Linked DNA regions of Homo sapiens: region 1 is linked to region 2. Evidence: fine-mapped expression QTL. Tissue or cell type: CD4 T cells. Region 2 holds a variant in brackets; the other region holds the start of a gene. All regions are shown on one strand. Distances are between the middles of the regions.

Evidence for each region. PIP is the estimated chance that this variant, and not a neighbour inherited with it, causes the effect.
Region 1: ALDH7A1 starts here. The variant in region 2 is the best candidate, but not a certain one, in a credible set for the expression of ALDH7A1 in CD4 T cells (CEDAR, PIP 0.54).

What each region holds. Positions count from the first base shown.
Region 1 is chr5:126,593,278-126,597,519 of GRCh38, reverse strand. It overlaps ALDH7A1 (aldehyde dehydrogenase 7 family member A1), which reads left to right and starts at 2,301. Exons shown (of 18, transcript NM_001182.5): 1 at 2,301-2,513; 2 at 4,116-4,169. The coding sequence starts at 2,322.
Region 2 is chr5:126,767,736-126,771,977 of GRCh38, reverse strand. The region is part of intron 1 of LMNB1-DT (LMNB1 divergent transcript); the gene reads left to right. Among named protein-coding and RNA genes, the nearest start is that of LMNB1-DT, 6.6 kb to the left of the region's middle. The variant G/AG (reference allele first, on the strand shown) is at 1,750.

The sequences.
Region 1 (4,242 bases), 170 kb after region 2:
AATTAGCACCATGGTCCTCCGTGTAGATGGAAGACAGCAGCAGGGTTGTTGATAGAGATTACCAATGTCAGATAGGGCATTGCAACTCCTTCGACGGTGTTATTCATTGGTTCATTTGTTCATATACTCATGTAAGTGAGCGTAAACTTGGAACAATGCTAGGAACTGTGGAGCAATGCAAAGATGAGTCAGAGATGGTCCTTGCCCTAACAGGAAAAAACTGTAGCATTTACAAAAGGAAGCATCATTCATGTATGCCTAGTACTAACTGCAGTTTCTGGTAGCTGCTTGATACATGCAGAGTGTTTGTTCAAATCATTTGTACTATAAGGGTGGAAGAGATAAAGCTTATGTTTGAATGCAGAGATGAAAGGGGCCAGGAGTGGTGGCTCAAGCCTGTAATCCCAGCTCTTTGGGAGGCGCAAGGCAGATCCCTTGAGCCGAGGAGGTGCGGACCAGCCTGGGCAACATGGGGGAACCCTGTCTCTACAAAAAATCCTCAAAAATTAGCTGGGTGTGATGGCATGCCTGTAGTCCCAGCTACTTGGGAGGTTGAGGTAGGAGGATCACTAGAGCCTCGGAGGTCGAGGCTTCAGTAAGCCATGATCCTGCCACTGCACTCTAGCGTGGGCAAGCATATTTTAAACTCATGTTCAAATAATGATGATTGAGATATTAGTATTTCCGTTTTACAGGGTAGGCCCAGTTGTTGTGAAATGAGATGGGGCATGCATGAATGGAAAGGATATTGTAGGAAGACAGAAATGGAGAATGAAAGAAATTGATCAAAACTGTCTTTATTCTTTAAGAGTAAGAGCTGGGCGTGGTGGCTCACACCTGTAATCCCAGCACTTTGGGAGGCTGAGGTGGGCGGATCACGAGGTCAGGAATTCGAGACCAGTCTGGCCAACATAGTGAAACCCCTTCTCTACTCAAAATACAAAAAATTGGCCAAGCGTGGTGGTGGGCGCCTGTAATCCCAGCTACGCAGGAGGCTGAGGCAAGGAGAATCGCGTGAACCCGGGAGGCGGAGGTTGCAGTGAGCCGAGATTGCGCCACTGGACTCCAGCCCTGGCAACAGTGCGAGACTACGTCTCAAAAAAAAAAAAAAAATGTAAGAATAGGCCGGACACAGTGGCTCACGCCTGTAATCCCAGCACTTTGGGAGGCAGAGGCGGGCAGATCACGAGGTCAGGAGTTCGAGAGCAGCCTGGCCAACAGGGAGAAACCCCGTCTCTACTAAAAATACAAAAATTAGCTGGTGTGGTGGTGTGCACCTGTAATCCCAGCTACTGGGGAGGCTGAGGCAGGAGAATCACTTGAACCTGGGAGGTTGAAGTTGCAGTGAGTGGAGATCGTGCCATTGCACTCCAGCCTGGGCGATAGGGCGAGACTCCATCTTAAAAAAAAAAAAGTAAGAGGCCGGGCGCAGTGGCTCATGTCTCTAATCCCAGCACTTTCGGAGGCTGAGGCGGGCAGATCATCTCAGGTCAGGAGTTCCAGACCAGCCTGACTAACATGGTGAAACCCCGTTTGTCCTAAAAATACAAAAAATTAGCCGGGTGTGGTGGTGCACACCTGTAATCCCAGCTACTCAGGAGGCTGAGGCAAGAGAATCCGCTTGAACCCGGTAGGCGGAGGTTGCAGTGAGCCGAGATCGCGCCGTTGCACTCTAGCTTGGGCAAGAAGAGCGAAACTCCGTTTCCAAAAAAAAAAAAAAAAAAAAAAAGTAAGAATATACCCAGGCAGGATATTTATAGAGGAAATGCAGCAATCTAATATTTATCATTAATTAGAAAACTTTAATTTGTAATCTACCAAAACAGTGAAAACAACCAACCCTTCCCCCGCCCCCCAATACAAACCCTCCGTTGCCTACTCCAGGGACAAGAGGCGTCACCATCGCTGAGGAGCTGGTTAGGAATGTCGGCTCTCCGACCCTAGCCCAGACTTACTGAATCAGAATGTGCATTTACCACGACGACCAGGTCATTACACGCATTTTACAGTTTCAGAACCCCTGCTATAGCCTACTGTACTTCAGCGCCAATATTTTGCTGAAAAGAATTCCCAGCTGGAACTGTGGCTCCCGGAGTCTTTCACCAGATGGCAGCAGCCCACTCCTCCCTGTAGCACTCCCATTGTTCCAGGCAGGATTCAGCCGCAGGCTCCTCCGGAAGACCAGGGGCAGACGGGGCGGTGGCGGGGTCGTGCCCAGTGGGAGGGGTCGGGTCTGCCCAATGGGTTCTCCCGGGCGGGGGGCGGGGCTCTATTTCAGCAGCTCTCAGGGCCTTGGGCTCATCCCGAGTCCCGGGCTCAGTATGTGGCGCCTTCCTCGCGCGCTGTGTGTGCACGCTGCAAAGACCAGCAAGCTCTCTGGACCTTGGAGCAGGCCTGCCGCCTTCATGTCCACTCTCCTCATCAATCAGCCCCAGTATGCGTGGCTGAAAGAGCTGGGGCTCCGCGAGGAAAACGAGGGCGTGTATAATGGAAGCTGGGGAGGCCGGGGAGAGGTACGCGGGCGCTCAAGAAATCTCTGCAGCCGCCGGGGCTCGCTCGAGGAGGCCGGGCGGGCACTGACCTACCGACTCCCCGCTGGCGCTGGATGCGGTAGTAGCATGGGAGATTTTGAAGCTCCACAGTAAAAGTTTTCTCGTGTAGGGTGCCTTTAAAACAAAAACTTAGATTTTAGGTCCTTGTGTGCTATGCAGAATCGACGTCATTTTGGAGCTGTAGGGGCTAAACTTCCCGCGCATATTTAAAACATTATGGTCTACCGGGCGCGGTGGCTCACCCCTGTAATCCCAGCACTTTGGGAGGCCTAGGCGGGCGGATCACCTGAGGTAGCGAGTTCAAGACCAGCCTGACCGACATGGAGAAACCTTGTCTCTACTAAAAAAAATACAAAATAGCCGGGCGTGGTGGCGCATGCCTGTAATCCCAGCTACTAGGGAGGCTGAGGCAGGAGAATCGCTTGAACCCGGGAGGTGGAGGTCGTAGTGAGCCGAGATCGTGCCATTGCACTCCAGCCTGAGCAACAAGAGCGAAATTCCGTCTCAAAAAAAAAAAAAAAAAAAAAAATTAAAACCTTATGGTCTTGGGATCTATGGTCTTGTGAGAAATGTGGCACACTGAGCGGTGCAACTGATCTTAATTTAGAGCTTAACTCTGGCTCTTCAGCTGTGACGTGCACCGCAGGTAACGTTCTTCAGTGTAGTTTTAAGTTATCTTCCTTCCTGAATTCTTTGGGAGTTTGCAAGCTTGGACGTGCCGAAATCTTGCCATGTTGTACGTTGGGCTGTGAACTCCTTTGAGGACTGGATTTTCAGCATTTCTCCATTGCCCAGGGCTTAACACCGCGCCTGATACCCATTACTGCTCAAAACAATGTTTTATAGAATACAATGGAAAGGTAAGGTTATTATCGCCCAGATTTTTTTTTAAAAGAAAGTTTTTTATAGGAGGATGTTATGTAACAGTTAACAAACTTTGTTGGACGTTGTATATTATATAATGAACCTGCCTTGGTAGAGGGAACACGTCTTTTGGTAATCAGTGGCTGTAGGAGATACAGATAATTTTAATTGCTCCTCAGACCTCGGTGTTTCATCCTGATTTCCGTGTGGTATCTGATCATTAGGCTCTTGGAGGCCTTTTTAGCTGTGCCTTGATTTTCCCTTTCATTGTTGACCTGAGACCTCTCCAGTTGGTGTGGACACGGGACTTTCCAACAGTTTTCCTGCCTTGGCCATTTCATCTCTGAGCAGAGGGTGGGCAGAGTAAGGAAGAGAAGAAATAACTAAAACTAGTCAGTTTGGTCTGTTATTAATGGAAAAAGAGACAAAATAACTGCTTATGTTAAGGCTTTTGTTTATATGCCTAATATTGAGATGTCAGAGGCGAGTTTTGCAGAAAGGTAGTTTCTAATGTTTAAGTCAGAAATGAAAGACAACCTCTGTAGAGTGGTTTATATGTAACAGAAGTTAACCTAAGCTTTTTGAGTTTGGGTATTATATCATTTTTTCCTCTCTTGTTTTTCTTCCCCGTTTGGTCTATTCCCTTACTTCAAAAGGGATTACGTTTTCTATACATGATCATCATCCTTTTGTTTTAAGGTTATTACGACCTATTGCCCTGCTAACAACGAGCCAATAGCAAGAGTCCGACAGGTAAGAGTGTGTGTGTGTGTGTGTGTGTGTGTGTGTGTGTGTTTAATTCAAATTATACACAAGGAGTTTGTGC
Region 2 (4,242 bases):
TACTAAGTTAGTCAAGCTCCCTTTATTCAAGTAATTCCTGAAATCTTATCCCTCCAAAGTTTTCCCCAATGAATTAGAAGTAACAAATTTGTAAATTTGGTGACAACACTTCTGCATTTACTAGGATAGTGGTGATTTCAAATATCCTGCCTTTGTTTTTACTATACACCTCCATTTACTTGTCAGGGCACATGTCCTGATTATTGGTTAGACCATATATATCCCCACCAAGTCTCAAAATGCCATGCCATCATTTTCCCTTGTCCATACTCCTCCTACAACTACCTCACTACATGTAAAGAACTTAATTGACATTTGTCCTACTTTATGTATGTCATTTGGATCTGGGACAGAAAAATATATGATACATAAGACATCTGGGGAGAAGGGGCCATACTAGGATGGGGTGAGAAGGAATGGGGAGGAGAGACTGAAAGCTTAGCAGTAACCCACTTTTGTCTTGGGAGAGGGGAGTGACAGCTGGCAGATAAATTGAGTATACATTGCAAACAAATAGGATAGCTAGGACTGCGACACAAAATGAAATAAAAAATTGCTAAATGGTATCTCTTCAATATATGTTTGCTGAATGGATGAATGAAGAAATAACTGAATACATGATCTTCTCCTGGAACAGATTGTTCGACTAAATATATTTTACAAACTTGATACTTTTTCCAGTTATTATAAAAGTGTAGACATCATGTTTTAGAAGGTTGAGTGACTATCCAGAATGTCTTCCAAGTCTGATTTTGATTTTCATGTTAAAAAAAAAAGCTTAGGAGTTTTAAAGTATATTTACCATCTTTAAGAGGATTCAGGTAGCACAGCCACCTGAAGTTTTTATACTGCTCAAACTTGTTTTCCTTTTTTTTTTCTTTATAGGTAGGGGTTTTAAATTCTGAGAGTAAGAACAAAAATTTTAAAATTAAAAAAAAAATAGGGGTGAATGACCGGGAGCAGTGGCTGACGCCTGTAATCCCATGACTTTGGGAGGCCAAGGCGGGCAGATCAACTGAGGTCAGGAGTTCGAGACCAGCCTGGCCAACATGGCGAATCCCCATCTCTACTAAAAATACAAAAATTAGCTGAGTGTGGTGGCAGGTGCCTGTAATCCCAGACACTTAGGAGGCTGAGGCAGGAGAATTGCTTGAACCCGGGAGGCAGAGGTGGTAGTAAGCCGAGATCACGCCATTGTACTCCAGCCTGGGCAATGAAGCAAGACTCCATCTCAAAGAAAAAAGAAATAGGGGTGAAGGAGAGTCAAGTGACAACGAACCACATGGGATTCCCACAAGAATGAGGAATTCATCCTAAAAGGGATAAGAAGAGGCTGAACAAACAAAAACAACATACCATATGTATATCTACTTCATGGAGCTTGAATAAGAGAAACTAGTCTCCTTCAGGCCTAAATGCCCAGAGATTCACATATTTTAGAAAAACTGGCCAGATGCGGTGGCTCACACCTGTAATCCCAGCACTTTGGGAGGCCAAGGTGGGCAGATCACCTGAGGTCAGGAGCTCGAGACCAGCCTGGCCAACATGGTGAAACCCCGTCTCTACTAAAAATATAAAAATTAGCCGGGCATGCTGGTGAGCACCTATAATCCCAGCTAATTGGGAGGCTGAGGCAGGAGCATCACTTGAACCCAGGAGGCAGAGGCTGCAGTGGGGCCGGGATCATGCCACTATACTCAACCTGGGCAACAAGAGCAAAACTCTGTCTCAAAAAAAAAAAAAAAAAAA[G/AG]TCATATTTATTTGCTCACTCATTAATCCGTGCATTTATTCAACAAACATTTGTTGAACACTTACTACATGCCAAGCAAGGAATGTCTAAGGTACATGATCCCTGCTTGGAGAAGCTCAACGGTCCAGCTATGGGCAGGCAAACATGTATATAATAAATTATGCCTCAAAATGTCAAGTACTAAACAGGCATGAACAAAGCGGTGTAGGCATGTTAAGGATGGAGCAAGTTTCTGTGTGCAGGAGGAGGGAGCAGACAAGATGATCTCTAAGCTGGGCTTCTGAGAATATCAGCCTTCAGGGACTGGCAAAAGGACTCAAAACCTTGTGGAGGGCTGTAAATGGCAACCCACAGCCCCCAGGGAGAATTAGAGGGAAACCCCAGACAGAATCTCTAATTCCTTATGGTGTGCTTTTTATTTCAAACCACACCAAGCAGGAGGTGGTTTAAACTAGGAATTTGTAAAGTGGTAAGAGAAGTGTATTTTAGTCAATAATCTTAACTTAGGTCTGGCTTACACTAGTCAAGAAAAATGGAAAATTGAGAAAATTACCATATAATTTTTAAAAAGCATATAATTTACTTAAGCTGTCATAACAGTTATGCCTTGCCTAAAGGCCGGACGTGGTGGCTCTCACCTGTAATCCCAGCACTTTGGGAGGCCGAGGAGGGTGGATCACGAGGTCAGGAGATTGAGACCATCTTGGCCAACACGGTGAAACCCCATTTTTACTAAAATTACAAAAAACTAGCTGGGCGTGGTGGCGGGTGCCTGTAGTCCCAGCTACTCGGGAGGCTGAGGCAGGAGAATGGCGTGAACCTGGGAGGCAGAGCTTGCAGTGAGCCGAGATCGTGCCACTGCACTCCAGCCTGGGCAACAGAGTGAGACTCCGTCTCAAAAAAAAAAAAAAAAAAAACAACAGTTGTACCTTGCCTAAAGCAAAACAAAAACAGAAAAACCAATGAAGCAAGAAATGCTAGAGTACCTCCTATGTGCAAGACACTCCACTGGATGACTGAATTTTGTTTTGTTTTGTTTCAAATTTGAAAAGAAATGAGATCTTACCATGTTGCCCAGGGTGGTCTCTAACTCCTGGGCTCAGGCAATCCTCCACCTTGGCCTCCCAAAGTGCTGGGATAACAGACATGAGCCACCATGCCTGGCCTAGGAGTTTTTTGTTTTGTTTGTTTGTTTGTTTTTAAGTATAAGATATAGTTCCTTCCTTCAGTGAAGGCACTGTATTGTTTGTGTGTGTGTGTGTGTGTGTGTGTGGAAATAAAATGTTTACATGTGATTAAATAGGGTAAGCAATGATGCCATAAATTATGAAGGCCCAAAGAACTGACATTGATGACAAGTGTCAAATCACTGAAACTGCTAAATTTTTTTTTTTTTTTTAAGACAGAGTTTGGCTCTGTTGCCCAGGCTGGAGTGCAATGGTGCGATCTCCGCTCACTACAAGCTCCGCCTCCCGGGTTCACGCCATTCTCCTGCCTCAGCCTCCCGAGTAGCTGCGACTACAGGCGCCCGCCACCACACCTGGCTAATTTTTTGTGCTTTTTAGTAGAGACGGTGTTTCACCGTGTTAGCCAGGATGGTCTTGATCTCCTGACCTTGTGATCCGCCTGCCTCGGCCTCCCAAAGTGCTGGGATTACAGGCGTGAGCCACCGCGCCCGGCTGAAACTGCTAAAATTTAAAGAAGGAATCACTTCAGTTCAGGACAACATGATAGAACATCCTGCAAGAGGACCATTTGAACTGGACATGGAAGTAGGGGAAGATGCATTCAGTTAATGATTTGAATTACACAAATTAGCTTTATAAGTTTTTCAGGAATAAAACTATCACATAAAATGAGATGACTATCTTTTGTATGAAATATTGTATTTGTGTATGTTGAGAATTTATATTGGTAACTGGGCAAGAATTATCCAGGATTTGGTTGCCCACATACTTGGAATTTAATGCTACAAAATACATTCTGTTAAAGTCTCTGAAAAGAGATGACACTGAAAAGTAAATAGGGACCTCTCCAATTTACATACAGAGTACAGGAGCAACTGAAACTTTTATATACTATTGATGGGAGTGTAAAATAGTACAACCACTTCAGAAATTGTTTGACAGTTCTCCAGCCTGACCAACGTGGTGAAACCCCATCTCTACTAAAATTTAACAACAACAACAACAACAAATTAGCCAGGCATGGTGGCGGGTGCCTGTAATCTCAGCTACTGGGGTGGCTGAGGTAGGAGAATCTCTTTTTTTTTTTTTTTTTTTTTTTTTTTTTGAGACGGAGTCTTGCTCTGTCGCCTAGGCTGGAGTGCAGTGGCGCAATCTCTGCTCACTGCAAGCTCTGCTTCCGGGGTTGACGCCGTTCTCCTGCCTCAGCCTCCCAAGTAGCTGGGACGACAGGTGCCTGCCACCACACCCGGCTAATTTTTTTGTATTTTTAGTAGAGATGGGGTTTCACCGTGTTAGCCAGGATGGT